Linked DNA regions of Homo sapiens: regions 1, 3, 4, 5 and 6 are each linked to region 2. A link means that fine-mapping ties the variant in region 2 to the plasma level of a protein whose gene starts in the linked region. Region 2 holds a variant in brackets. A gene starts in each other region. All regions are shown on their reverse strands.

Region 1 (4,085 bases), not on the chromosome of region 2:
GGCCAATTTCAGTTTACCACCCGGGCGTCTGAGCAGGCCCACCGTGTCCTGAGTCCTGGGCTGGGACTGGTGGAACTTGGAACAAGATTTGGTGCTGTCTTCAGAGAGCTCTTCCAGAACGTCCCCAAGGAATGATTTACCGGGCCCTATGCTTTGCAGGGACCCCTCTTCCACTCGGGCACACAGCTCTGCCAGGTCAATGTGTCCCCACTTCACAGGCACATGCAGAACTCGCATGGGGAGCTGAAGGGAGACGGAGATGGGCTCGAATCCCACTCTTCGAGAGGTTTCTGCGAGGAGGCTCCAAAGGGCAGTAGGGTCTGGACCAGAGAGGAAAAGGCTCCCCAGGGAGAAGAAATGTGGGCAAGGGACAAGCGGGACCGACAGGGGGCACTGCCGGCACAGCGAGGCAAGAGCCCTGCCTGCAGGGAGACAGGTGCCTGCCAGGCAGTGGCTGGGCCCAGCCGGGAGTTGGAGGCCACGAAAGCCTGGACCATCTGACAGCAGAGAACCAAGAGGCCCAATTAGGGCTTTAGAGCTGGAATGCGCCATTTCAAATCCGGTGGCAGGGGAAAGTTCAGTCAACCAGGCGGCTGCCTTGCTCGTAGACACGGCATTTATCTGGTGGTTAGCTGTGGGGCTGTTTAGCTGTATGCTTGGAATTGTATAACACGATTCCCACCGGCCAAGACAGATCAATGACCCAGACGGGCTGGAGGGCCAGAAATTAAAAGCATGACGCTCATAAGTGGGCAGCGGCCACTGTCTTGGCCACCGTCTCTGCTGCCCTGCAGGGGGGGCAGCCAGCAGCCCAGAGCCCCTACTACCGAGAAGCTCCAAATCCATACTCCCCTCTTCCTGGCCTCTGGGTCTTCCAGGCCCCTACCAAACCCCAGATTCCATGATGTGCTTTTCACCTCACACAGAAAAGCAGGACAGTCAGGTGCGAGGAGGAGGCTAATTGTTCCAGGAGCAGCCTTCAGGAGCAAAAGTGACATGGGGACGGGTTTGGATCTGTTTGTGTGTAATTTGGAAATGTCCTTCGATGGTGCAGGCTCGTTTCTCCAGCCTGGTTGCTGCACCAGAATGTCTTTTGTTTTGGAAATGATTACTCAGCCTCCTGCCTAAACCTGTTTGGGACCGTCCAGACCTTCTTGCCCACTTCTGGTGTTGTGTGCCAGTGGTGGGCTGACCCCAGCAATAGATCTCTCCTGCCTTTCCAGAGGGTCCCCACTCCACTGTGTCCTCAGCCTCTGCTCTCCTGCTCCCTCTGCACCAAGGATAGAGACCCTCCCAGAACTCACACCAGGCCCCTTACTCTAGATGCTGGGGGAGGCTGGGACTGGGGACAGGAGCTACCTGATCTTTTGATTTTAGGGAAATCCTAAGCTGACCTCCCACAGTCCTTCCTCTCCAGCCAGGCACAGGTGGAAATGTTTAAATGGGTTGGGTTGGCCAATCTGGACTAACAGCACGGAGTGGGCCCGATCCCTTCCTTTCCAGTGGTCCTCCAGGAAGTCAGGGCACCTGGGCCTAGTGAGGGGGTTTGGGGTATGTGGGCAACTCAAAGGCATGGCATGGCATGCGGGGTGGGGTGGCATTCGTCCCTGATGCTTGGTGACCACGTCCCATTGCTGGGGATCCCTGGGCCTGGCAAAGAAAAATGGCCCCCAGGGACAGCGAGGCACAAGGGCAGGGGTCCTGTTAAGGGTCACCTGGGTTGATCCGCCCCCAAGATAGCTTGGAGGTGGGGAGGGGCAGCGGGCTTGGGGCTGCCCTTGAAGGGACCAGGGCAGCACTGGGTTCTGGGATCTTCCGTGTGTACCCCACCTCTTCTGTGCCCCTGCCCCGAGGAGTTGGCGCTGAAGGCTGCAGGGTGCTGACCGCCGAAGCCCACCCGGTCATGGCTCTCCCCGCTCCGCCGCCCTCCCCGGCCGCGCGACAGCCAGAGCCCCCTCCCATGCCGCGCGCTGCGCGCTCCGCTCGAGCTGCCACCGCCGCCCGCGCCGCCGCCGCGTGCTCCTGCTGCCGCCTCGCTCCAGCCGAACGAGCCAGAGGAACGAGAGAGAGAGAGAGAGAGAGAGAGAGAGAAGGAGGGCGGAGAGAGAGAGAGAGAGAGAGAGAGAGAGAGAGAGAGAGAGAGAAGGAGGGCGGAGAGAGGAGGGAGGAGAGAGAGAGAGAGAGGAGGCGAGGGAAGAGCGAGCGCGGGGCTGCTCCGAAGCCAGCAGAACCTCCTCGGACAGCGGCCCCAGCCGGGCCCCAGCAGCTCGCGTGGTCGGAGGAGAAGCAGCTGCCACAGCTGCCGCCCGAGCCCGGCCTCGCGCGCCCCTTGCCGCTGGCTCGCCGGTGCCTGTGCGGCCCCAGGACGCCGCTGCCCGCTCGGCGGCCGGGATGCAGCCGGGGCATGGCCGCCGGCCCCCAGTCACCTGCCGCGGGGAGCGCTGAGCCCGTGAGTAGCCTGGCCTCGTCGCCCGCCTCGCTCTGCGGCGGTCATTCCCATCGGGCTGAGCTGGGGGAGGGGGACATGGCCGCGGAGGGGCGCATGGGACCCCGCAGTGGGAGGCGGGCTGCTGAGCGCGGCCGGGGCTGACCCGAGGGCGCGTGGGGTGGGGTGGCGCCCTCGGGGTCAGGGGTCCCTGCGCGGGGTCGGGGTCCCTGGGTCCCTCCGGGGCTGGGGTCTGGACGCTCTGTCCGGCCGTGGGCCAGAGGGGCGATTTTGTGAATGGGAAGGCCCGGGGGTCGGGCTCCATGGAGACGCCAGGGAGTCCCGCGCGCTGCGTGGCGGTGGCAGTGGCGGTGGCGGTGGCGGTGGTGGTGGCTGTGGCGGCGGCGGCGGCGGCACAATGCCCGGCGCGGGGAACTCCCCGGCGGGGGGAGGCAGAGGCGCGCGGAGATCCCGGCCCCGCGGGGCGCGTCCGAGCAGGCAGCCGGAGCCCGCGCGGGTGGGAGAGAGGCTGGCGACCCGGCGGTGGTGCAACGTGCGTCTGTCGCGGCACCCAGGCCCGGAGAGAGCCCTGCCGGGGTCCTCTGAAAGGAGGGTCGCTGAGAGGTTGATGACCCAAAGGAGTTGTGGGGAGGAAGGGGCTGCCACAGCTCCCCAAATAGGAGCGGGGCCCGCAGCACCGCGGTGTGCGCGGGGGCCGAGCAGCGAGGGGCGAGCGGCGCGCAGGGCCCTACAGGGGGCGGGCTGGGGGCGCTCCGGGCCGAGTCCCCAAGCACGATAGGAAGGCTGGAACGGGAGCAGAGGCTGCCTCTCTGAAGCCTCGGCCACCCCCAGGGCCTCGAGCAGCGCGGCCGGGCTGGGAAAGCCGGGCACGCCCCTGGCCCAAACTTTCTGCCCTGGTGGCCCCGGGCGGTGGTGGGGCTCGCCCGGGGCGTGTTGGGCTCGCACGCTCGGGAAGGTGGTCTTCTGTGGCGTCTCGGGGTGGCGCGAGGCCAGTGGTCATTTTGGTGCTGGGGGTCGCAGCCTCCCTCCCCGGGACGCGGAGCCTCCCCTGGCGCGCAGCCCTGCAGTGTCGGTGCGGGGACCGAGACGCGGCGCCCCGCGTGGAGGGGCATTGGGAACCTGTCGGGTCCCCAAGCGGCCCTGGGATCCCTGGTATCACGTAGGGTGGGGGTGGGATGTTCCCGGAGTCCACTGGTGGGGGCGGGGGCCCAGCGAGGTGGGGAGAAACTCCTGGACAACAGAGCTGCCTCCCCCTCCCCTTTCCGTTCCAGCTTTGGCGAGGTACCTGATTTATTTAATGATCACTTTTAAAAAGGAGTCCCGCGGAGCCGCTAGTCCCGACGCGCGAGACACCCCACGGTGGAGGCTAAGGACAGAGACCCAAGGGATCCATCCCTGGGTTTAAGTCCCCCTTCCTGCCCCAGCTGGTGGTGAAGTCGCTTCTCGGGCGCGCAGGTTGCTAATTTCCTGCTCCAAACGCAGGTTGGACTCGGGGACGCCTTGGGCATGCACCCGGGCGCCCCGGGCACTTAGCGTGGAGCAGGTAGGAGGCTAATGGAGTGGGGTCGCCCGTAATGAGGTCTTTCAGCCGGAAGCCGGCTTCGGTTTTACTGGTCTGCAAAACATAATGGAAAAAAAA
Region 2 (4,085 bases):
GATGCTGCTTATGATAAATTTGTTCCCCTTGTTCTGGCTTTACTGATGACAGACAACATAGTCTCATACTGTGGCTGCCTTTTTAATCTTCTTTACTTAATGGTCAAACCGCTCCAAACCCTGCTGACATATTCCTCTTGCTTCCCTCTTACCCTCAAGGTCAAGTATAAATCAGACTTGAACCTGACCAGAGGTGTTGGCTGGACCCCTCCTGGCTCCTACAAAGTGGAAATGGCTCGGCGGGCTGCGGAACTGGCCAACGCAAGGGGCCTGGGTCTCCAGGGAGCTTACGTGAGTAGCAAGCTGCAAAGCCACCCCTGGCTTGCAAGGCCATGGGGAAAGACAAACTCATTGTTTCTTTTCAAAGTTTATTTTTGGCCAAAGGTCAGCTAGCTCTAAAGAAGTGTGAAACGCAGCTCAAACAAGGCGCCTAATTTCATGGGTCTGAGATGACCAGGCAGATGACACGCAGGTTAAACTTCCTGCAGGGCTTTCTCTGAAGTCACAGCCATTAGTTCTGCAGAGGCAAACCTACCGGGGCTACATCAATCCCGGGCCAGGGCAGCCCAGGCTGTGCTGACTGCTTGCTCGTTACATTCGCAGAAAGGGTCAGGGACTCGCTGGATATGACAGTCTGCATTTTGAACCCTACTTTGTTCAGAAGAAAGAAGCCAGGTCTAAATGAGAGATTGGCTTTGCTTTCTCATTCCTGCCTTGAAGGCCCTTTTTCTTGGGGAGGGTAGAAGAGGGGAAAAGGAAAGGGAGGGTGAGCCTGTTAAATGCTCCCTGTGCTTCTTAGCGTGTCCTGTGGGAACCGGGGCCGGGAGTGGGGGTGGGGGAGCTTCATTTTAACTTGGGGTATGTTTGATTTCAGCAGCGGGGGGCAGAAGCAGTGGAGGCTGGAGATCATCAGAGTGGGGAGGTGAACCCAGATGCCACTGAGATTCTGCACGTCAAAAAGAAGAAGGCCCTGCTGTTGTGAGCCATGTCCACCCTGATTCCTGAGAGGCCAGAGAGGAAGTTTGTTCACCAGAGACAGGCTTCAGATGGCTTTGATTTCGGCAAGCTGGAATGGCCCACCAGCCCATCCCAGATCTTCCTTTATTAAAATAATAACTCTGAAAGCAGATGGAGAATGTTGTATTTGTGGTCCTCTCTGATACCTAGACGTGGATGGCTGATTCTGTTGAGTGCCTCGAGTGTCTGGGCTGAGGAATAAAGATGTGATGGTGGTTCCCGCTGATGCTGGGGATTCTGGAGTCTGCATTTGCAGGATGCCTGTGGTGGAGGCAGTCTCTGTGAACACTGATTTTCTAGAAGGTACAATTGGGTAAGGAAAGCAAACATACTATGTTGTGTTGATTCCATCATTCCTTGGGTTACCAAGGGAGGCAGAAGAAGCCTGGTGATATTGTGCAAATGCTGGTCTGGGAAGGCCCAGGCTGGGTGGCAGTTGTCTCTGCTTAGAGTAGGGATAGTCTACTGTGTGGTCCCCTGGAGGCTCTGGAGGTGTCCATTGTTGGCCATGAGGCCTCCCGGTGTCAGGGTGCCAAGGAGAGTGGGCTCTGAGGTCCAGAAGACAGTACCTTAGAAGCCACTTTCACTTTTGATGGTGGCTTTGATCCAATTCAGGAATTTGGTAACTTGGGTGTAGACCCCTGGCCTCTTC[C/T]CACACTCCAGGCCCCAGCTCACTATCCCATAGACGTAGTAGGTGCCGTCCTTCTCACAGGTCAGGGGGCCTCCAGAGTCACCCTAAGGGAAACAGAGGCATAAGCTCATCCTCGTGAACCAGAGACATCTGGAGATGCCCCCACCTCTCTCCAGGGGGTGTCAGGGAGGGATGGGGTGGAGTCCCTTGCCAGCCTCCGTGGGCTTCTCTGGAAAGCAGTGACAAGGCTCTCCCCACATCTCACATGATACAAGACTCTAAGGGAGAGAAGATAACAGTGTCCTCCGTCCCTGAGTCCACGCGGGCTTAACAGAGGAGCCGCACAGCTGCACTTCCCAACTCTCAGTGATGCAGATGTTATGACTGTGAGTTCTCGGGGGCCCTCAGCACACATAGGGGAGGAGGTTGGGGACTCCAAGGCAGCGTGGCCTAGGTGCTCAGCATGGTCTATGGGGTTAGATCTCCTGGGTTTTAAGCCAGGCCCTACCACCTGCCAGGCATGTGACCTTAGGCCTCAGTTTCTCACACTGTAAACCATAGATAGCAATAGATCCCCATCCCCCAGGGTTCTTGTGAAGATTGTTTGTAAAGTATATAGAACAGTGCCTGGTTCATATTAAACCCTCACGGAAGGTGGCGAGGATGATGATGGTGAGGAGAAGAAGACATTGAGGGTGATAGCTCTCAAAAACTTAATACTGCTTAAACACTACAACTGACAGGTTTTTAAAAAATGAATTCTCTATTTTAAACTTAGCCACGACCTTGTGATCTTATAGATAGATTTCCATTTTATAGTTTAGGCATCTGAGATTGAAGAATTGCTTTCATCACTGATAAAAGCCATACAGTAAGAGACAGAAACAGGTTTCAATTCACAACTATTTGTTTCCAAAGCCTGCAAGTGAAAGCCTTCAATTATCTAGGGAATTGAATGAGGTTTTTTTTTGTTTGTTTGTTTTTGTTTTTTTGAGACAGGGTCTCGCTTTGTTGCCCAGGCTGGAGTGCAGTGGCACCCTCTTGGCTCACTGCAACCTCCGTTTCCCACGTCCAAGCGATTCTCCTGCCTCAGCCCCAGTAGCTGGGACTACAGGCATGTGCCACCATGTCCACCTAATTTTTGTATTTTTCTTTTAGTAGAGACAGGGTTTCACCATGTTGGCTAGGCTGATCTTGAACTCCTGACCTCAGGTGATCTGCCCGCCTCAGCCTCCCAAAGTGCTGGGATTACAGGCTTGAGCCACCACGCATGCCCAGCCTGAATGAGCTGTTTTCTTAACCATCTTCTGGGAAGGAGTTTAGGGCAAATTGCACCCATCTGCCCCTCCTCTGAGTAGGTGAACATCCTTGGCTCACTGGGAAGAGACAGATAGTCACAGGAGAGCCACAAACCCTGGAGAGAGGAACCTTGATGTCCCATCCCAAAGTGAGTTCAAGGCCAGCAAATCATTGTGGGTTCCTTTGTACGGGGAGGCTCCCTGAAGGAGTTGGGATTTGAATGTTGGCATGCTGTTTTCCAGGACATTTAGAAGGCTTATGGGGACAACAGTCAGAAAATTCTAAATGGAGGTGTTCCTGGGATTCTAGAAAGGACCCTGTGTGATGTGATCCCTACAGATAAAGGGACTATGGGGAATGGGCTTTGACTTGGGGCAGGGCCTGAAGTCACTTTAGCATTGGTTGATGGAGCCACCACCTTCTCTCTCTGCAACAGTGTCTCTGAGTCACAAGCCTCAGCAACTTGGAGTTCTGAAAGGCCCTAGGCTACAGATATACTTAGTTTTCTAGGGCTAAAACACCCCCCCCCCCCCCACACACACACACACGCACACATGAGTCCTAATCATGAGTTAATATTACTGTGAAATCTCTAGCTCTAGGCCTTCTTCTTTCTCCTTCTAGCCACTGGTCTTCTGGACAGTTCCCTGTTTACTGGGATTCTCAGAAAGGCTGCCCTACACTGAGGCCACAAGCCCCTTTGGTGTCCTGCAGACTGTATTGTTCAAATCCCAGCCCTGCCACTGGCCACCCAATTGCTATAGGCCAAGATAACTTCTCTAAGCATCTGTAAAATGGTGATCATGACATCACCTTCACCAGTGTGTTGTGAGAGTTAAATTAGACAGTGCAGGCAATGTGACCTCTGTGGTCATTATGCTGAGTCATCCTGGGTTGATGCGGATGCAGATGCACCAGAGGGCCAGGGGGCAGACACAGCTCACCTGTGTCTTAGCTTTACCACAGGTGGACCTCTGAACCTAGCTCCCAGCCCAGGGCTCTAAGGGTCCTCTGCCTAGTGAAACATCCTGCTAGCCTCTCCTACCACAAGCACCACTTGGAGTCTCTGACCTGGCAGGTGTCTTGCCCAGGTTTCTGAAGATTTCCTGCACAGATCATACTGTCATCAATCATGTGG
Region 3 (4,085 bases), not on the chromosome of region 2:
GTGCATGCCACCATGCATGGCTAATTTTTGCATTTTTAGTAGAGACAGGGTTTCACCATGTCGGTCAGGCTGGTTTTGAACTCCTGGCCTCAAGTGATCCGCCTGCCTCGGCCTCCCAAAGTGCTGGGATTACAGGCGTGAGCTACCGTACCTGGCCTGCTATGGACTTAAAAAAAATTTTTTTTTGAGACAGTGTCTTGCTCTGTTGCCCAGGCTGGAGTGCAGTGGCATGATCATGGCTCATACTGTATCCTCAAATTCCTGGGCTCAAGAGAGTGGACTTTCTCCAGGCCAGTGTGTACACAAGTTCCCTCCCACCACAAGGCATTTACACCTCAGCTATTCCTGACCAGGGCAATCTGCCATCCATCTCTCTTTTTTTTTTGAGGCAGAGTCTCGCTTTATCGCCCAGGCTGGAGTGCAGTGGCACGATCTTGACTCATTGCAACCTCTGCCTCCCGGGTTCAAGCAATTCTTGTGCCTCAGCCACATGAGTAGCCAGGATTACAGGCGTGCGCCAACATGCCCAGCTAATTTTTGTATTTTTAGTAGAAACGGTGTTTCACCATGTTGGCCAGGCTGGTCTCGAACTTCTGACCTCAGGTGATCCGCTAGTCTCGGCCTCCCTAAGTGCTGGGATTACAGGCGTGAGCTACCGTGCCCGGCCCATCCCTCTCATTCTTAACACTTATTGCGGTGCTAAGCATATAGTCACTTTTGTGATTCTTTGATTTGTCTACCTTACTAGAGTGTAAGCTCCAGGAGGGCTGAGAGATGGTGCTCACCATTCGAACACCAGGAAGCACCCTGAGTACCGGATTAACAGTTGAATTAATCAAGTAAGAAATGACTGTACCACGAGTTCGAGTACCAAAGCTGACCGTCTCAGTACAGACAATCGCTAAAGGCCTGAGTTCCAGCTCAACTAAGAGGCTGTAGGGTCCCTTTTCCAGGCGCTCCCCCGAGGGGCTGGTCGCAATCCACCCCCGAGACTCGCAGCAACCTCCTTGCCCCAGGGGGGGCCGCGCAGAGCCTAGCCACGTGGCGGGAGACTTAGGAAACTTAAAATACCCGCTACCAGGAAGGGCGTGGAGGTAAGGGAAGCGGGAATTACAAAGTTCGGCCCCTGCGAGCACACTTTCTGGCCCAACCCACTGCCCGGATGAGGAAAGTGAGGCCCAGGGGAACTGAAGTCGCAGTGGGAAGGCAGAGATTGCGGCTCCTCCGGTACCCCTGGCCGCGCCGTCGAGCACTGCGGGACCCGGCTCCGGGCGCCTGCCGGGTCGCCTGGGGACGGGGCGCGGGCCGCGGGCCGCTGATCTCCACATCTTGCACGCGGCCCTCGCACACGGCCCACGAACGCTTACCTGGCCGCTCTGCTCCTTCACTTCCCGCGCCGCACGCACATAGCCAGCCCGCAGCAGATGGTGGTAGATCAGGGGAAGTAGCTCCCGCCGCTTCCTGGCCTCGGCCATACCCGCGACCCCCGGCCGGCCGGCTACCTGCACGCCCCGCCTTAGTCCCCGCCCGCCACTTCCCTCGCGCCCTTAGACCTCGCGCGCCACACTTCCGGCTCCTCTTTCGCTCCGGCCGCGCGGCGCGCCGGGAAACGTAGTCCCCTCTCCGGGAGTGGCCGGCCCCGCCCCTCAAGGCGAAGGGGGCGGAGACTCGTGATCAACAATACCGCCCATTGGCGCGGAGCATGCGGGGCTAGACAGGGACCCGCCCCCGGGGCCGGCCGGGACTTGGACGACTCTCTTTTAATCCTTCCGGCTGGCTTCTTGAAGAGATTTATCTTCCTTGTTAATTCTCTGATGGCTGGGTCTGCGTTTTACTCATCTCTGAACTCCCTAATCTGGATCTTTCTCTAGATCCGAACTTTGTACTGCCATTACCTGCTCATTTATCCATTTCGCACGGTTTTTGGTGCCCATGAACCAGACACGAATTGCCAGTTTATTCATTGATTCATTCGCTAACTGAACAAATCTGTAATAAGCACCTAACTTGGGCTAGCACCCGGCTAGGCTAGGGGGATTCAAAAGATGCATAATACATGGCAGTTGCCCTCAAAGCTCACAGAGACGACTGTCCGTAACCAAGCAACTATAGTTCAATATCTTGTGTGCCTTGTCAGGGACAGATGCAGCCTATGGGCGCCCCAAGGAGGAGCACCGAACCCCAGAGAGATATCTAAGCTGAGGCATAAAGACACCCGAAATTGCTGGGTGCAAAGGAGAGGACTGGCAGAGGGCACTGCATGAGTCTAGGCATGAGAAAACACCCTGCTATTGCCTGGGAACCCTAAACCCAGAACCCCTAGTCTGCGCTGCTGGGCTGTCCAGGTGGGGTGGGGTGAGGTGGGGAAGAGGGAACAAATGAGGGCACATGAGGATGAAGAAGTAGACAAGGCCTACAACTCCCCCACCCCCAACAGAGTTTGGACTTTGCTCTGAGGGCATTAGATAGTCTCTGACTGGCTTTTCCGAGGAGGTTGACCCTGTTTTGTGTTTTTAAAAGATTGCTAAAACCAAAGCACATACCATTAATACTAAATGTGAGGCTGTTGTAGTTGTTGAGGGAAGGATGGCAGGGAAAAGGTGAGGTAGGCTGGAGAATGTTAGAGTGAGCTGTTCTTAACTTCACCGACCCATTGAGAATCTGAGGGCAGCATGTTTCTTACGGGCGCAGGAGTCCCTAACCCTAGGAGGTCCAGGTATGTGGTTATCTTTGTCTTGAACTTGAATGGAAAATGTTATGTGTCTGTACACATTCAACATTTCCCATTTTCTTGAGCAAATATTTATTGAGTACCTACCATTGGGGATGGAATAGTCTCTACTCCTATAGAGCTTACAGTCTAGTGATGGAATTGTCTCTACTCCAATAGAGCTTACAGTCTAACGGAGGAGACACATACTAAACTAATAGTCATACAATACAGTGTTACAAACAGCGGGTAAGTGCAGGAAGGAAAAGGATAGTGTTTTCTTATGTAATAATATAGTGTTTAAAAGCTGCACTGGAGTCACACTGCCTGGGTTCAAATTCTGGCTTTGCCTCATTAACTAGGTGACTTTGGGCAAGTCACTGTGACTCAGTTTCTTTATCTGTACAATGGAGATAATTATAATTTCTACCTCACTGGGTTGTCATAAGGAGTAAATGAATTCTCAGCAGAAATGCTTAGAGGAGCTCTGAACAATAGCGCTCTCTGTGTGCGTGTGTGCTATTATTGTGAAAGCATATAACAGGAAGGAGGGATCTATTTTTTTCTTGGGAGTTAGGGAAGGATTCCCTGAGAAATTAATGGTTATGAGGAAACCAGAACTGTGTGTAAGGGAGAGTCAGAGAGAAGAAACCTGAGCAGAGGGAAGAACCTGTGCAAAGGGCCTAGGGCAGAAGGTACAGCTGAGAGAATAGACACAAAAAGGCCTTTGTAGCATAGTCCGGAGGGAGAGCAGGGGGACTGGGGAGTGTAGAAGGTGGGCAGAGGGCAGACTCCATGTGAAGGATTGGCCACATCAGGGTTTTTTTTCCTCCATCCTAAGAGCCATTGGAAGCCACTGACGGTGTAAGCCCAAGAGGTACAGGATGAAATCTGAATTTTACTGTGACCTGTGTGCCTGCCCAGTGGAGAGTGGAGTGTGTCTGGTGGGTATGAGTAGATGTGGGAAGACAAGTCAGGGTTAGGAGTGCAGGCAGGCATCCAGGGAGAAGACAGTGTATGTGGGGGGGGGGGGCGGGTGGTAGGTGGCGGGGGCAGCGGGGAGGGTGCTGGTGGCAGTGGAGTTGAAGAGAGTGGAAGGTTCCCAGAGTTAATCAGGAACTAAAGTTTTCACAGAGGTGTGTTGGAATGGGAGGGGAAGGAAAAGGCAATGTCAGAATGGACCTTGAGGTTTCTGTGCAAACAAGTAGGCAGTATTTTTCACTGAGATAGAAAAAACTAGAAGAGGACTGAGACAGGGGGGTGGTTTGATTGAGGAGAGGAGGATGTGGACAGAGAGGTGAAAGTATATATTCTATGTTAGACATCTTGAGCTTGAAATGCCTTACAGTCACCACATGCAGATGTTGAGAAGGTT
Region 4 (4,085 bases), not on the chromosome of region 2:
AACGTGCACTTTGGGGTAAGTTATTAAAGTTGACTCTTCTAAGAAAATACTGCAAGAAAATCACAGTGAGGAAGGGGAACAAATTCTTAGTAGTTTATAAAACTCAGGTATAATATTGATTTAATCAAAAGGCAAAACTGGAGCAAAAGAATAGTCCTGGGCACAGTGTCTAAAGCAGACACACCTTAAACCAACTTTGGAATGCCTTATGATTCATGTCTCAACATGAACAGTTCTAATCACAAGGGAACCTTCTCCAATGCCCTCTGAGCAGTAGTAAAATAACACACAGACTGTGTAATTTAAAGACTGCCTTACTAGCTTAACAGAGTGAATCAGAATATTGAAAACTGGCAAATTCAATAAAGGTTTAAAAATTATGACAATAATATGTTGAATAACCACTGCTATTTTAATGTTTTATTTATTTATTTGTTTGTAATTTTTGTAGAGACAGGGTTTCACCATGTTGTCCAGGCTGGTCTCAAACTCCTGGGCTCAAGCAATCTGCCCACCTCGGCCTCCCAAAATGCTGGGATTACAGGGGTGAGCCACTGTGTCCGGCAAACCATTGCTATTTTAAAACTAGACTATTTCTTAAACTCCTAAATAGCTTTCTCAGATAATAGTAGAAAGGGTACAATAAATCCAAAACAAACACAAGTCTGAAATTTTTCATCTCTAGCCTACCTTAAGCTTATATATTAAATATATAATTATTTATAATTATATAACAATTAACAAATAAACAATGTTTATTTCTCAAACCAAGTAACTTTCTATAAAAAGAATATTTATACTGCTAGAACAAGAAACTGGCTGAACAAAAGCAATTGTCTGATAAATGGCTAAATAAGTAAGGTTTATTTTTACCATATTAGGTTTCTAGAATGAAACAATTTTATAGCTAATCTGACATCTGTAATGTGACAACTGTCTTCTCACATAAATCTCTGGTAACTGTTTATATACTTTTGGGTAATACAGAAAAATGACAAATATTCCAATTTTTAAAATGCAAAATATGTATGTAGATGTATGTAGAGAATGCATTAAAACTTTAAAAGAATTTTCACACATTTGATATTTTGATATACACTGAATTCATAATTATTTTGCCCAACCCCCTAAAATTTCCAAAGAAAATAGACGAGCAAGGCCTTTTCTACCATATGAGAGGAAAAAAACTAGCTAATAAAATCAGAGTATAATATATAACAACTTGCAAGTTCAAATATACCATGCATACTAGATTTTTCTCCTTGTTTACTTTTAGAAATTTTGAGAAGTTTTAATTAATTTTAAAAGAAAAAAACAGCCACAGACAAAACCAGCTTATAATAAAAAGGCAAAAAGGGAAGTTAATGGTTAAACCCATGCATGCACCTAGCCACTCAGCAAACCTCTCTGAAAGCCCCACAATATTGCCTTCTCAAACCATTTCATTGTCATAAACTCAGGAATAATATCCTAGCTGTAATCTAGAAAAATGTCTGTAGTCCTATGCCCCGCCTGAGGGTGGACAAAAACTGGGTCATAAATGAATATTTGCTACTCACTCTTCAGTTTCCTTGTCTTCTGCTGAAGTGCCTGGCAAGTGTTCGATAATTCAGTATTTATAGTTTGAAGGTTCCGTTGTTCCGAAATTGCTTCCTCTAATTTATGCAGTAAAGACGTAGCTTTTTCACTGGCAGTGTGGGCTTCTCGATCTCGATCCTTACCCTGGACATGGATAGTTAGTGCTGGATTGTAGCAGTGTGGCCAGGAAAGAAAGCAATGGAGTGCTCACTCTTATGATGCAGGCAAAACTGAAAATGTGTTTTTCTTCTCAGGGAAGTGATAAGCCTCTCCTGAACTTCTGCAATTCTGTGTTTGCATGGGCTTGGTATGCCTGAGCTATTTCTACAGCGGTTAAAGTCCTGATATGTCAAGTTGCCTCTTTCTGCAGAGTCGCCTCTTTCATCAGCAGGCTGTTGATACCGCCTCTCTTACAACTCCCCCTTTACTTCCTCTGCTCACTGTTAGTCGCTAGGGACTGAACTTGCAGTTCCTCTTTGCTTTTTTTTTTTGTTTGTTGTTGTTGTTCCTCCTCCATTTTTATTTCATGGTTTGCAGGGCATCTGAGGAGATGTCCCCTGAATCTAATGTAGCCATGAGCCACCCTACCTGCTCCTCCACATCCTCCAGCCGTTGGCTGGTTTCTTGGAGCCTCTTCCTAAGGATGCCTTCCTGGTTGACAGCATCTTCCTGTAGTTGTTTAATGGCTTCTAGTTGTTTCTGACTGGAGTTAAAAAAAAAAAAAAAAAAAAAAGTCCAAACCGCAAGCTGTCAGTGACATTTCAACTAAGAGTCACCCTGTGAAATTATGACAAACTCAAACTTAACACCACTTCCTTAGAGATCAGAGGAAAAAGTGAAAGTATTTACATATAAATGCTTCACAAATATAAAATCTTAAGCAAAGCTTATTGGTCGCTTAGCCTGACACCCTCACTTTACAGATAAGGACTTCTAGTTTCATCTTTTACACTGGTGTGTTCAGTTCCCACCAGCTGCATTCATAGCACTTAGCATCAGTTGCCAGTTGCCAGTTACTCAGAAGATGGCTCTACAATGAGGTCAGGGTGACAGGTGCAACATTTACACATCACAGCTAGCTTTTACAGAAAAAGAAAGGAATGGGGTAAAGGTAGGGGGAGGGAAAAGAAAAGGAAAGAGAGCTTTGTTTCATGACCTTAGCCTTTCTCCTTAAGGGTTGTCAATCATAGTATAAACACGTGCCACGAGCACAGGAAGGACCGCCCCCAGGCACAGATGAAAGCTGGCGGTTGATATTTCTACTTTAGTCCTCTTTTTGCTGAAGCTTTTCTCCCCATCACCCTTCCCCACCACAGATCTCATGGTGCCATTACGTTACACCTCATTTGGATCCAATTCTAATCTCTAAAACATGTAAAAATGCACTTACTCTCTGTTAGCAGATGAGATTATTTAATGTGTGTTACATGCCAGTACCTCAATGATTATCTGGAAACAATCTGACTTGAATATGGACCTTAACTCAAAGTGGTGATAAATGTCGGGAGTTGCAAAACAGCAAGGAAGACATTGTCAGCCGTAGGCCTTGTGCATGCCTCTCAAACGTTAACATTTAGTCAGAATGCCACTGCACACTGGCACAAATCCAGCCCTGGTTACACGAAGGACCACATGAGAGGCAAGAATGGTCTCACAGAATGCTTACCATACTGGTAAACAAGCAAACAAAATCCTAAGCAAAAATAAAAACTGCCTACATCACCACACTTTCCACTGAGCGTCCTTCAATAGCTTATCGTTGTCTCTCTCACTCTCTTTTTCTCTCTTTTTCTTTAACTGTGGCAGGAACATTTAACAGGAGATTTACCCACTTAACAAATTTTTAAGTGTACAATACAGTATTATTAACTACAGGCATAATGTTGTACAGCAGATCTCTAGAACATCTTCATCTTGCATAACTGAAACTTTATACCTATTGAGTAGCAACTCCTCATTTCCCCTCCCCTAGCTCCTGGCAACCACTATTCTCTCTCTTTCTATTAGTTTAACTATTTTAGATACCTCAGAGAAGTGGGATCGTGCAGTATTTGTTGTTCTGTGACTCACTTATTTTACTTGGGATAGTGTCCTCCAGGTTTATCTATGTTGTCATATGTGGCAGAATTTCCTTCTTTTTAAAGGTTGGATAATATTCCCTTGTATTTATATACCAAATTTTCTTTATCCAATCATCCGTGGACATTCAGGTTGTTTCCAAATCTTGGCTATTGAGAATAATGCCGCAGTGAATATGGGAATGCAAATAGCTCTTCCAGGTGCTGATTTTAATTATTTTGGATAAATACCCAGAAGTGGGGTTCCTAGATCAGATGGTAGTTTAATTTTTAATATTTTGAGAAAACTCTGTAACTGTTTTTTTTTGTTTGTTTGTTTGTTTGTTTTTTTTGAGACGGAGTCTCGCTCTGTCTCCAGGCTGGAGTGCACTGGCGCGATCTCAGCTCACTGCAACCTTTGGCTCCCGGGTTGAAGCGATTCCCCTGCCT
Region 5 (4,084 bases), not on the chromosome of region 2:
CACTAAGAAGGCTGACTATGGGAGAGGGCTGCACCAAGCATAGCTGGAAAAGAGCACAGAAAAGCTCTCCCAAGTGGCTAGGATGTGCCCAGCTTTCCTTCCCCGTTCCCTGCCCTCCCCTCCCCTCCCCTCCCCCCCCCTTTCCTCGCAGATTCAGAACTGTTGCTCCCAGGGATCCTGGGCTTTTGTTCTCTGGAAGCTTAAACCACCACCTGTTTTGCCTTTATTGTTTAAAGGGTATCTCCTGTTGTTCACAAACTACCACAGGTTGAAGCGGACAAAACTTAAAGGCAGCAGGAGCTAAGTATGGTACTTCCTTTTTTTAAAACAACAAAAACAACAGAAAATACTAATAGTAAAACATCAATGCTTTTCCATTTTCCCTTTTTTATTTCTTTTCTGAGGTCCCCTCTAACACTAACTACCCCCTCTTTACCTGTTAATCCTACCATTAGTACTAATAAAAAGTTATCTTTAACGTTAATTATAACTTGTTATATATCTGTTTTTCTTAGTTTGAAGTTTTTACAGTCTGAGGTATCCTCTAAAGCAGTTTCTCAAACTTGAATATGCGTAAGAATCACCTAGGGATCCTGTTAAAACGCAGATTATGATTTAGAAGGCCTGGGGAAGGTCTGAGCTTTACCTGAGCTCCCAGGTAAAGCCCTTGCTGCTGGGCCTTGGACCACACTTGAAGTAGCAAGGCCTTACAGGGTTTAGAACAAATAAAGTGCATACACACAAAAAAATGATTGCTGGATGCTGCTTTGGTCTCTCTTACTCTGTATCTTGAGCTTTTCTTCAATACATCTTTTTCCACCTTTTCCTATGCATAATTTATAGCCAACACCTGACAATCATTCCTTTGTGTAATTACTTAGTTGTGCTCTTCCTTCCCTTTTCTTAGTCACCATTCTCACTGAGAAATGCGTCATTTCATGAGTACTCCAGTTACCCCCAGCCTCTTTCTACTAACATCTACCTTGAAACATCAAGAACTGGTTAAATAATCATTTTTACCCCCTTCTTGCTGAGCAACCTATAGTAGCTTCCTACTACACACATTAAATTCATATTCAGAATGAGAAGCTTCAAGACATTTCACCAACCCTTCCTTCTCCTCTGCCAATTTCTCTTTTTGCTCCACTTGGAACTCTCTGCATATTGCCCAGGTATACTTAGTTTCTCGAAACTCCTTACAGGACATTTTACTTTGGGACTGTCTTCTTTCATTCCTTTTTAAAGACATGCTGTATCGCTTTCAAAAAATTCTCAATTTTTACCAATTCAAAAAAAATTTCCTAATTCATTTCCAGTTGAGTCCCGTATTTAAAACAGTATTATCTAGGTGCTAATATATGTCTTATTATTCTTATTTTTATATGTCTTAACATTCTTTTTAAAAATATTTTCAGCCTCTCTAAAGGATCAAAAAATTAACCTTTAAAATCCCTTGAAGAGCATTTTAAGAGAGAAAATATTTGAGGTTTAGTAACACTTACACATTGTACCACCTACCAGCTCCTATTCTACTAGGGAAATAAAATTTAGATGCAGCTAAAATTTAGTTAGGGCCCAAACTCACATCCTATCTAAAAGGTTTCTGTTTTCCTGTCATTGTTTTCTACCCTTCGCATTTTGCATTCAGTAGGGTTGCATTTTTCTTAATAGTTCTTGGTGATGCAAATGCAAAAGAAATGAAATAGGGCTCTCTCATACTACAATTTCAAGGAAAAGGAGACTACGAGGCCCATTCAGCGAGGTGCAAGAGGCCTAGATGCAGCACACCCTGCAACCGCCGCATGCTCCAATTTCATCTTAGGGTTTTCGTACAGCTCCTCTTTTTTGGATGATGCAAACCGCGCAAAAGCAGCATTCAAACCTCCCCACCCTGGAAACGATACAAGAACATGAATCTTTACTGCCACTTTCTCCCTAACACGCAGCCAAGGGAGAGAGGCCCGGATACCCGCCCCCAAAACCGCGTCCACAACAATCATTTCCTCCCTCCCCGCCTTTTACATACAGTACACATACAAATACACACACGCAGAGAAGCCAGCAGGGGCGGGCCGGGCCCGACCACTCCGCAAACCGCAGGGGGAACTTGCGGCAGGCCGAGCTATTTTCGCCCAGTCCTTTCTTCTTCGCTTGCGTCTTCCTCTCCATCTGCATGCACCTGTTACATGAAAGCGAACTTGGGGACGTAGGGTTTCCAGAAAATCCGCTTCGGAGCCACACAGCTTCGCCGGGTGCTGCAACATCCCCCCTCTCTCGGTAAACAGTTGGTCGCGCCCCAGTGCTAGCGGGCGCCGAGCGGGAGCCGCGCGGGAGCAGCGCAGCTACGGCGGCGGCAGCGGCGGCGCGGTTGCGATTCCGAGCCGTTGAGACGCCTCTGCGGCAGCTGGTGGCGCAGGTGGCTTGCGTGGACGCGGGTAGAGGCGACCGGCCAGCAACCGCAGCGTCGGCGCCCGCGGCCCCGGCAGGTGAGCGGGCGACGGGGACTCGCCCCGCCCCCCCCTCGGTGGCGTCGCTCCTGGCTGTAGCGGGGAAGTGGACGCGGCCCGCCCGGGAGCCGAGGGGGCCGAGGCTGCAGCCGCTGGGCAGCAGGTTGCGGGGGAGGCCTTGCGTGGGCGGAAGGGGGCCGCTCGCTTCTCGGAATCCCTGCCTTTTTCTCTCCCATGCACCCCCTCCCTTTTGGGGCTTAAGCTCGGTGGAAAAAGCCCGGAGAAAGATGGGGCGGGCAGACGGGCGATTTCTGGCCGGGCAGCATCCCTGCTTCAGGTGGTGGCGTCTCTTCGGTGGCGGGGTGGAGGACCTGCTCCAGCGCGGAGGCAGCGCACTGGCGGGGGAGGAGCGGGAGGCGGCCGTCCCCTCGCTCTCCCACCCCCACCCGCCGGTTCCCCTCCCCCTCCCCTTGCGGCCCCTCCCTTCGGGGTTCTTCGCTTTAACCGCCCTCGGTGCTCTCCCTAGCAGGCGCGTCGGGACGCCCCGAGGCATCCTCCCCCGCCCGCGGGCCCGGTAGCTGGGCCCGCGTCCGCCGCCCGCATCCCCGCGCCGCCGCATCTCCTCGCCGCCTCCCGGGCTTCGGACCCCCGGTCTCGCCCCCGAAACATGACTCGCGATTTCAAACCTGGAGACCTCATCTTCGCCAAGATGAAAGGTTATCCCCATTGGCCAGCTCGAGTAAGTGATTTGTAGCCCTCGCGCTTAGCAGTGCTACCCTCCTCTCCAGAGGCCTGCTGCCCACCGTGTCTCTTTATTTTTTCTTCTGTCCTTTCTCTCCCTCGCTTTAGTCTCATTTGTAACCTGACCTTTCATTTTAGTTTTTTGCCCAATAATCTCCCGTGTAATTATGAAAATCCAGACGTTTCTACATACCTGTGTATTTCCCTATGGTTTATTGGCAGACTTGGACAGATTTTCTTCCTAGGAAATATTTAAATGCGTTGCTAGTTAATATTCCATTGTAGGTGAAATAATGAAGAGTGAATTTTTGTTTAAAAATTAGTGAAACATTGACATTTCCATAGTTTTGGATCAAGTACAAAATATCAATGGAATTTGTGCAGATTACACACAAACACTTGGATGTCAGAGAAGTGCGTATGTGATTAAATTGGATTTACAGGGTTTTAAAAAAAATACCTTGTACTTGATGAGGCCTTCTGGATTTGCTTGTTTAATACAGATTCAGGACTGGATATTCTTGAAAGTATTACAGTAGTTTAGTACCGAGGAAGGGCCAGAAAATTCATTTCTCCTTTTTTATTTGAGATGTTTATGACCTTGAAGAAGTTGTTTTACCTTTTTGTTTCCAATAGGCAAAAAGGAGGTGTGGACCAGATTCCTCAGTTCACATCTAGTGGTACAGAGAAATGATTAAGGACCCAGGATGTTTTGTGACATTGAGGAATTGAGACTGTTTAAAGATCTACGCTCCATTTTTAGAAAAAGGGTTCTTTTTGTTTATGGTGGTACCCAGGCTCTCAAACAGAGATAGATAGGACCTAAGATATGTTGCAATCAATTAGATTAGGTAAACTCAAGATCCTTTAAAAATATACTTACATGGGGTTCTGAA
Region 6 (4,085 bases), not on the chromosome of region 2:
GTAAACTAGCACAACCACTATGGAAAACAATATGGATGTTCCTTAAAGAACTAAAAGTAAATCTGCCATTAGATCCAGCAATCCCACTAGCGGGTATCTACAGAGAGGAAAATAAGTCATTATATGAAAAATACACTTCCACACGCATGTTTGTAGCAGCACAGTTCACAATTGCAAACATATAGAACCATCTCAAATGCCCATCAATGCACGAGTGGATAAAGAAAATGTGGTATATATATATAACATGGAATACTACTCAGCCATAAAAAGGAATGAAATAATGGCATTTGCAGCAACATGGATGGAGCTAGAGACCATTATTCTAAATGAAGTAACTCAGGAATGGAAAACCAAATATCATATGCTCTCACTTTTAGGTGGGAGCTAAGCTATGAGGACGCAAAGGCATAAGAATGACACAATGGACTTTGGGAACTCAGGGGGAAAGGTGGGAGGGGTGAGGGATAAAAGACTACACTTTGGGTTGGCTGGGCGCAGTGGCTCACGCCTGCAATCCCAGCACTTTGGGAGGCCGAGGCGGGCGGATCACGAGGTCAGGACATCCAGACCATCCTGGCTAACACGGTGAAACCCCGTCTCTACTAAAAATACAAAAAATTAGCCGGGCATGGTGGCGGGCGCCTGTAGTCCCAGCTACTCGGGAGGCTGAGTCAGGAGAATGGCGTGAACCTGGGAGGCGGAACTTGCAGTGAGCCCAGATGGCGCCACTGCACTCCAGCCTGGGCAACAGAGCAAGACTCCATCTCAAAAAAAAAAAAAAAAAAAAAAAAAGACTACACCTTGGGTAGAATGTACACTGTTCAGGTCATGGGTCCCCCAAAATCACAGAAATCATCACTAAAGAACTTATCCATGTAACCAAACACCATGTGTTCCCCAAAAACTACTGAAATAAAAATTAAAAATATAGTTAAAAAGAACGGGTGAAGTTAGCCAGTTGTGGGTGCACATGCCTGTAGTCTCAGCTACTGGGGAGGTTGAAATGGGATGCTTAAGCCTAGGGGTTTCAGTCCAGCCGGGCAACATAGCGAGACCCCATCTAAAAAAAAAAAAAAGAAAGAAAAGAAAGACGGCCGGGCACGGCGGCTCACGCCTGTAATCCCAGCACTTTGGGAGGCTGAGGCAGGTGGATCACGAGGTCAGAAGATCGAGACCATCCTGGCTAACATGGTGAAACCCCGTCTCTACTAAAAATACAAAAAATTAGCCAGGTGTTGTGGCGGGCGCCTGTAGTCCCAGCTACTCTGGAGGCTGAGACAGGAGAATGGCGTGAACCCGGGAGGCGGAGCTTGCAGTGAACCGAGACAGCGCCACTGCACTCCAGCCTGGAAGACAGAGTGAGACTCTGTCTCCAAAAAAAAAAAAAAAACCTAAAGACAAGAAGGGGTGAAGTCAACTGCTGGGCTTTTTTGTTTCTCTAGCCATTGTGAAGACAGGAGTGAGTTGCCAGATTGGCATATGTTGCATCCCACTGAAGGCTAGTGGACATGAATCTCTAGGGAACAGTCTCCCCACTGCATACTTTCTTCAGCTGTGCTTGGCTGTTTGGGAGCTAACAAAGAGAAAAGGTGCATTTGGATTCACACAGCGTTGGTATTCTTACCAAATCCATGTGACAAAAAGGCAAGGGGGCAAAAGAGCTTACAGTAGTGGCAAGAGTGTTGTTAAAATTATAGATTATGGAAAATATGCAGGCCTAGAAGTAAACAAAGGAGAAAGCCCTCAGACTGTGAGAAAGTGGAGAAGTCAGTGGCCTAGAGCTACCAAAAAGGTAGAAGAGGGGCCACGGAGGGGCCATGCAAGTCTGCAGACACTTTTGTTTTCAGACACCTTTATTCACGTCCAAGACAATCAGGGAAGGGGATAATGTTCGGTTTAGAAGGTAGAAAAACACAACTGGGATCTGCAGCTTTGAAGCCACAAGTAGATTCATATCTCCGGTCCACCACTTACAAGATATGTGACCATGGACATTGATTTACACTTTTTGAGTCTGTTTTCCCTTTTTTAAAATTAGGAGAATAATACTATCTTATAATTGGTGTGAGGATTTAAAGAGATAATGCATGTAAAGCGCTTAACACAGTGCCTGGCACACAGTAAGAGCTGAACACATGATGTTACTGTTATATTTGGAAGAGAAACCAAGGCAGGGGTACAATGAGGACAACTCTGAGCGCCGAAGTACTGTAAGGTGGAACTTTTGGATAGCTAGGCGCATGCGTCTGTCTATGGGCGCTCTCCTAGCGAGGACGCTGCGCATGCGCCGGAAGTTGCAGCCGGGAAGCCTGCGAGGTCGGTTCCGCCCGACTCTAACATGGCGGCGCCCTTTGTCTGCTCTGGAGTGCCGTCCCCGGCCTTCTCGCGGCCGTGATGCACCTCCCTCTGCGGTGGGGTCCGGGACATGGCAGGTGAGTGTCAACAATCGCCCGGGGCCGGGGAAGTCCCGGGAGCCGGGGCGGAGGCGGCGGAGGATGGGGCGCGGTGGGACGCCGGTGACGGTTGTGTGGGGGAGGGGAGGGAAGTGGAATGGGACGCCAACCGGGGCTGAGGGGACACCGCTGGGCGGGAGATTGTGGGGTGGCGGGGCGGGGGGCGTCGCCGGGCGTGCTGGCGGGGAGTGGGCGGCCAGGCGACCGCCCGGGCGAGGGGGCGCGTGTCACCTCCCGGGCTGGATGACACCCCAGCTGGTAGCATCTCCGCCCCCGCCGCACGGCTGTCACCGCCCCTTGACCCCGCGCGCTGTCGAGGGTGGGCGTTCTGCGGCCGCGAGGGAGCGCAGTGCCGGGGCAGCTCCTGTCGGCCGGCCGGGGCGGGAGGGAGCGGGGCTGCCCGGGCCTAGGAGGAGCTGACAGAGGAGGCCGACGCTGTCCCTGTATAAAAGCATTTCATTCATTCATTCGTACTGCGGACGGTGGTTCAGCACCTGATAGATGGTGAAGCTAGAGCGAGTGATGCGGGCGGACTCGATCCTCCAGGATCCTCGATCCTGGAGTTAGGAGTGTGAACCGTGGAGCCCAGCAGCGGGGTTTGAATCCCCATTCCCTGCTGTGACCTTAGGCACTTTTGGCTTTTTCTCTCTGCCTGGGTTTATTCATCCTTTAAGCAGAGATGATAATAAAATCAGCCTCCTAAGATTGTAATAAAGGGGAAATGAGGCTCCTAGAACACTTATGGGTACAAAGTAAATGCTGTGTGTTTGTTGCTGTTATTAATTGTATCACCATTGTCACCCAGAGCTCAGAGACCCATGTGGGAGACATACAGGTAAATCAGCAATTCTGATACTGCTGCGAGGGCAGAAAGCCCTCCTTCCTCTGAAGCACGGAGTAGAGACACATCACTCAGCCTAGGGGGAATCCCGGGAGGCTTCTGTCCCCCAGAAAGCTAAGATCTAAGGGAAGCTCAGCGGAGTGAGGCAGGAAAACGGGTATTCCCAGTTAAGGGTGTAGTTTGTGAGAAAACTCATCTTCGTAGAGAGAGGAGAGAGAGATCAGGCTAAATAAAGAAGCAGACTGGGCCGGGCTCGTTGTCTCACGCTTGTAATCTCAGCACTTTGGGAGGCCCAGGCGGGCAGATCACTTGAGGTCAGGAGTTCGAGACCAGCCTGGCCAATATGGTGAAACCCCCGTCTCTACTAAAAATACAAAAATTAGCCGGTCGTGCTTGCGCGCGCCTGTAGTCCCAGCTGCTCAGGAGGCTGAGGTATGAGAATCGCTCGAACGCAGGAGGCGGAGGTTGCAGTGAGCCGAAACGGCGCCACTGCACTCCAGCCTGGGCGACAGAGCGAGATTCCGTCTCAAAAAAGAAAAAAAAAAAAAGCAGCAGCAAGCTGTGGTCTGGTCTTAGGGGACGTTGTAAACCTAGTTAAGGACTTTAAACTTTAGGTTAATGGGAAGCCATTTAAGAATCAGATCTGTGGCCAGGTGCGGTGGCTTACTCTGTAATTCTAGCACTTTGGGAGGCCAACGTGGGATGATCATTTGAGCCCAGGAGTTTGAGACAAGCCTGGGCAACATGGCAAGACCCCATCTTTATTAAAAGAAAAAAAAAAAAAAAGG

Which allele goes with the higher level. Positions count from the first base shown, and alleles are read on the strand shown. Strength reflects both the effect of a copy and how common the allele is.
With allele T in place of C in region 2, the plasma level of the protein whose gene starts at base 2,224 in region 1 is lower (weak association).
In carriers of allele C in region 2, the plasma level of the protein whose gene starts at base 1,525 in region 3 tends to be higher than with T alone (weak association).
For the plasma level of the protein whose gene starts at base 1,810 in region 4, allele T in region 2 goes with a lower level than allele C (weak association).
For the plasma level of the protein whose gene starts at base 2,333 in region 5, C is the high allele of the variant in region 2 and T is the other (weak association).
For the plasma level of the protein whose gene starts at base 2,317 in region 6, T is the low allele of the variant in region 2 and C is the other (weak association).

What was found. PIP is the posterior inclusion probability: the model's chance that the variant is causal. The UK Biobank Pharma Proteomics Project read protein levels with antibody pairs (Olink). The fine-mapping took linkage between variants from a reference panel, not from the people measured, so its PIPs are less certain.
Region 1: RBFOX3 starts here. The variant in region 2 is fine-mapped to the plasma level of the RBFOX3 protein (UK Biobank, PIP above 0.99).
Region 3: it holds the start of TCOF1, and the variant in region 2 is fine-mapped to the plasma level of the TCOF1 protein (UK Biobank, PIP above 0.99).
Region 4: IRAG2 starts here. The variant in region 2 is fine-mapped to the plasma level of the IRAG2 protein (UK Biobank, PIP above 0.99).
Region 5: PSIP1 starts here. The variant in region 2 is fine-mapped to the plasma level of the PSIP1 protein (UK Biobank, PIP above 0.99).
Region 6: ZBTB17 starts here. The variant in region 2 is fine-mapped to the plasma level of the ZBTB17 protein (UK Biobank, PIP above 0.99).

What each region holds. Positions count from the first base shown.
Region 1 is chr17:79,609,190-79,613,274 of GRCh38, reverse strand. RBFOX3 (RNA binding fox-1 homolog 3) reads left to right here and starts at 2,224. Exons shown (of 15, transcript NM_001350451.2): 1 at 2,224-2,449.
Region 2 is chr10:113,585,872-113,589,956 of GRCh38, reverse strand. It overlaps HABP2 (hyaluronan binding protein 2), which reads right to left. Exons shown (of 13, transcript NM_004132.5): 12 at 4,019-4,085; 13 at 355-1,752. The coding sequence ends at 1,588. NRAP (nebulin related anchoring protein) reads left to right here. Exons shown (of 42, transcript NM_198060.4): 41 at 160-291; 42 at 878-1,243. The coding sequence ends at 982. Among named protein-coding and RNA genes, the nearest start is that of HABP2, 35 kb to the right of the region's middle. The variant C/T (reference allele first, on the strand shown) is at 1,670.
Region 3 is chr5:150,355,137-150,359,221 of GRCh38, reverse strand. It overlaps TCOF1 (treacle ribosome biogenesis factor 1), which reads right to left and starts at 1,525. Exons shown (of 27, transcript NM_001371623.1): 1 at 1,368-1,525. The coding sequence starts at 1,475. LOC105378226 (a long non-coding RNA gene) reads left to right here and starts at 1,802. Exons shown (of 4, transcript XR_944407.3): 1 at 1,802-2,716; 2 at 3,552-3,654; 3 at 4,059-4,085. RefSeq lists silencers at 1,098-1,317, 1,398-1,737 and an enhancer at 2,338-2,507.
Region 4 is chr12:25,050,431-25,054,515 of GRCh38, reverse strand. IRAG2 (inositol 1,4,5-triphosphate receptor associated 2) reads right to left here and starts at 1,810. Exons shown (of 22, transcript NM_001366544.2): 1 at 1,560-1,810. RefSeq lists enhancers at 1,936-2,305, 2,346-2,455.
Region 5 is chr9:15,509,219-15,513,302 of GRCh38, reverse strand. PSIP1 (PC4 and SRSF1 interacting protein 1) reads left to right here and starts at 2,333. Exons shown (of 16, transcript NM_033222.5): 1 at 2,333-2,486; 2 at 2,974-3,186. The coding sequence starts at 3,115. RefSeq lists enhancers at 43-661, 1,314-2,266, 2,267-3,220 and silencers at 2,348-2,427, 2,448-2,657, 2,668-2,727, 2,858-2,907, 3,008-3,207.
Region 6 is chr1:15,974,333-15,978,417 of GRCh38, reverse strand. It overlaps ZBTB17 (zinc finger and BTB domain containing 17), which reads left to right and starts at 2,317. Exons shown (of 16, transcript NM_003443.3): 1 at 2,317-2,435. RefSeq lists enhancers at 1,953-2,452, 3,344-3,453 and silencers at 2,454-2,553, 2,594-2,923.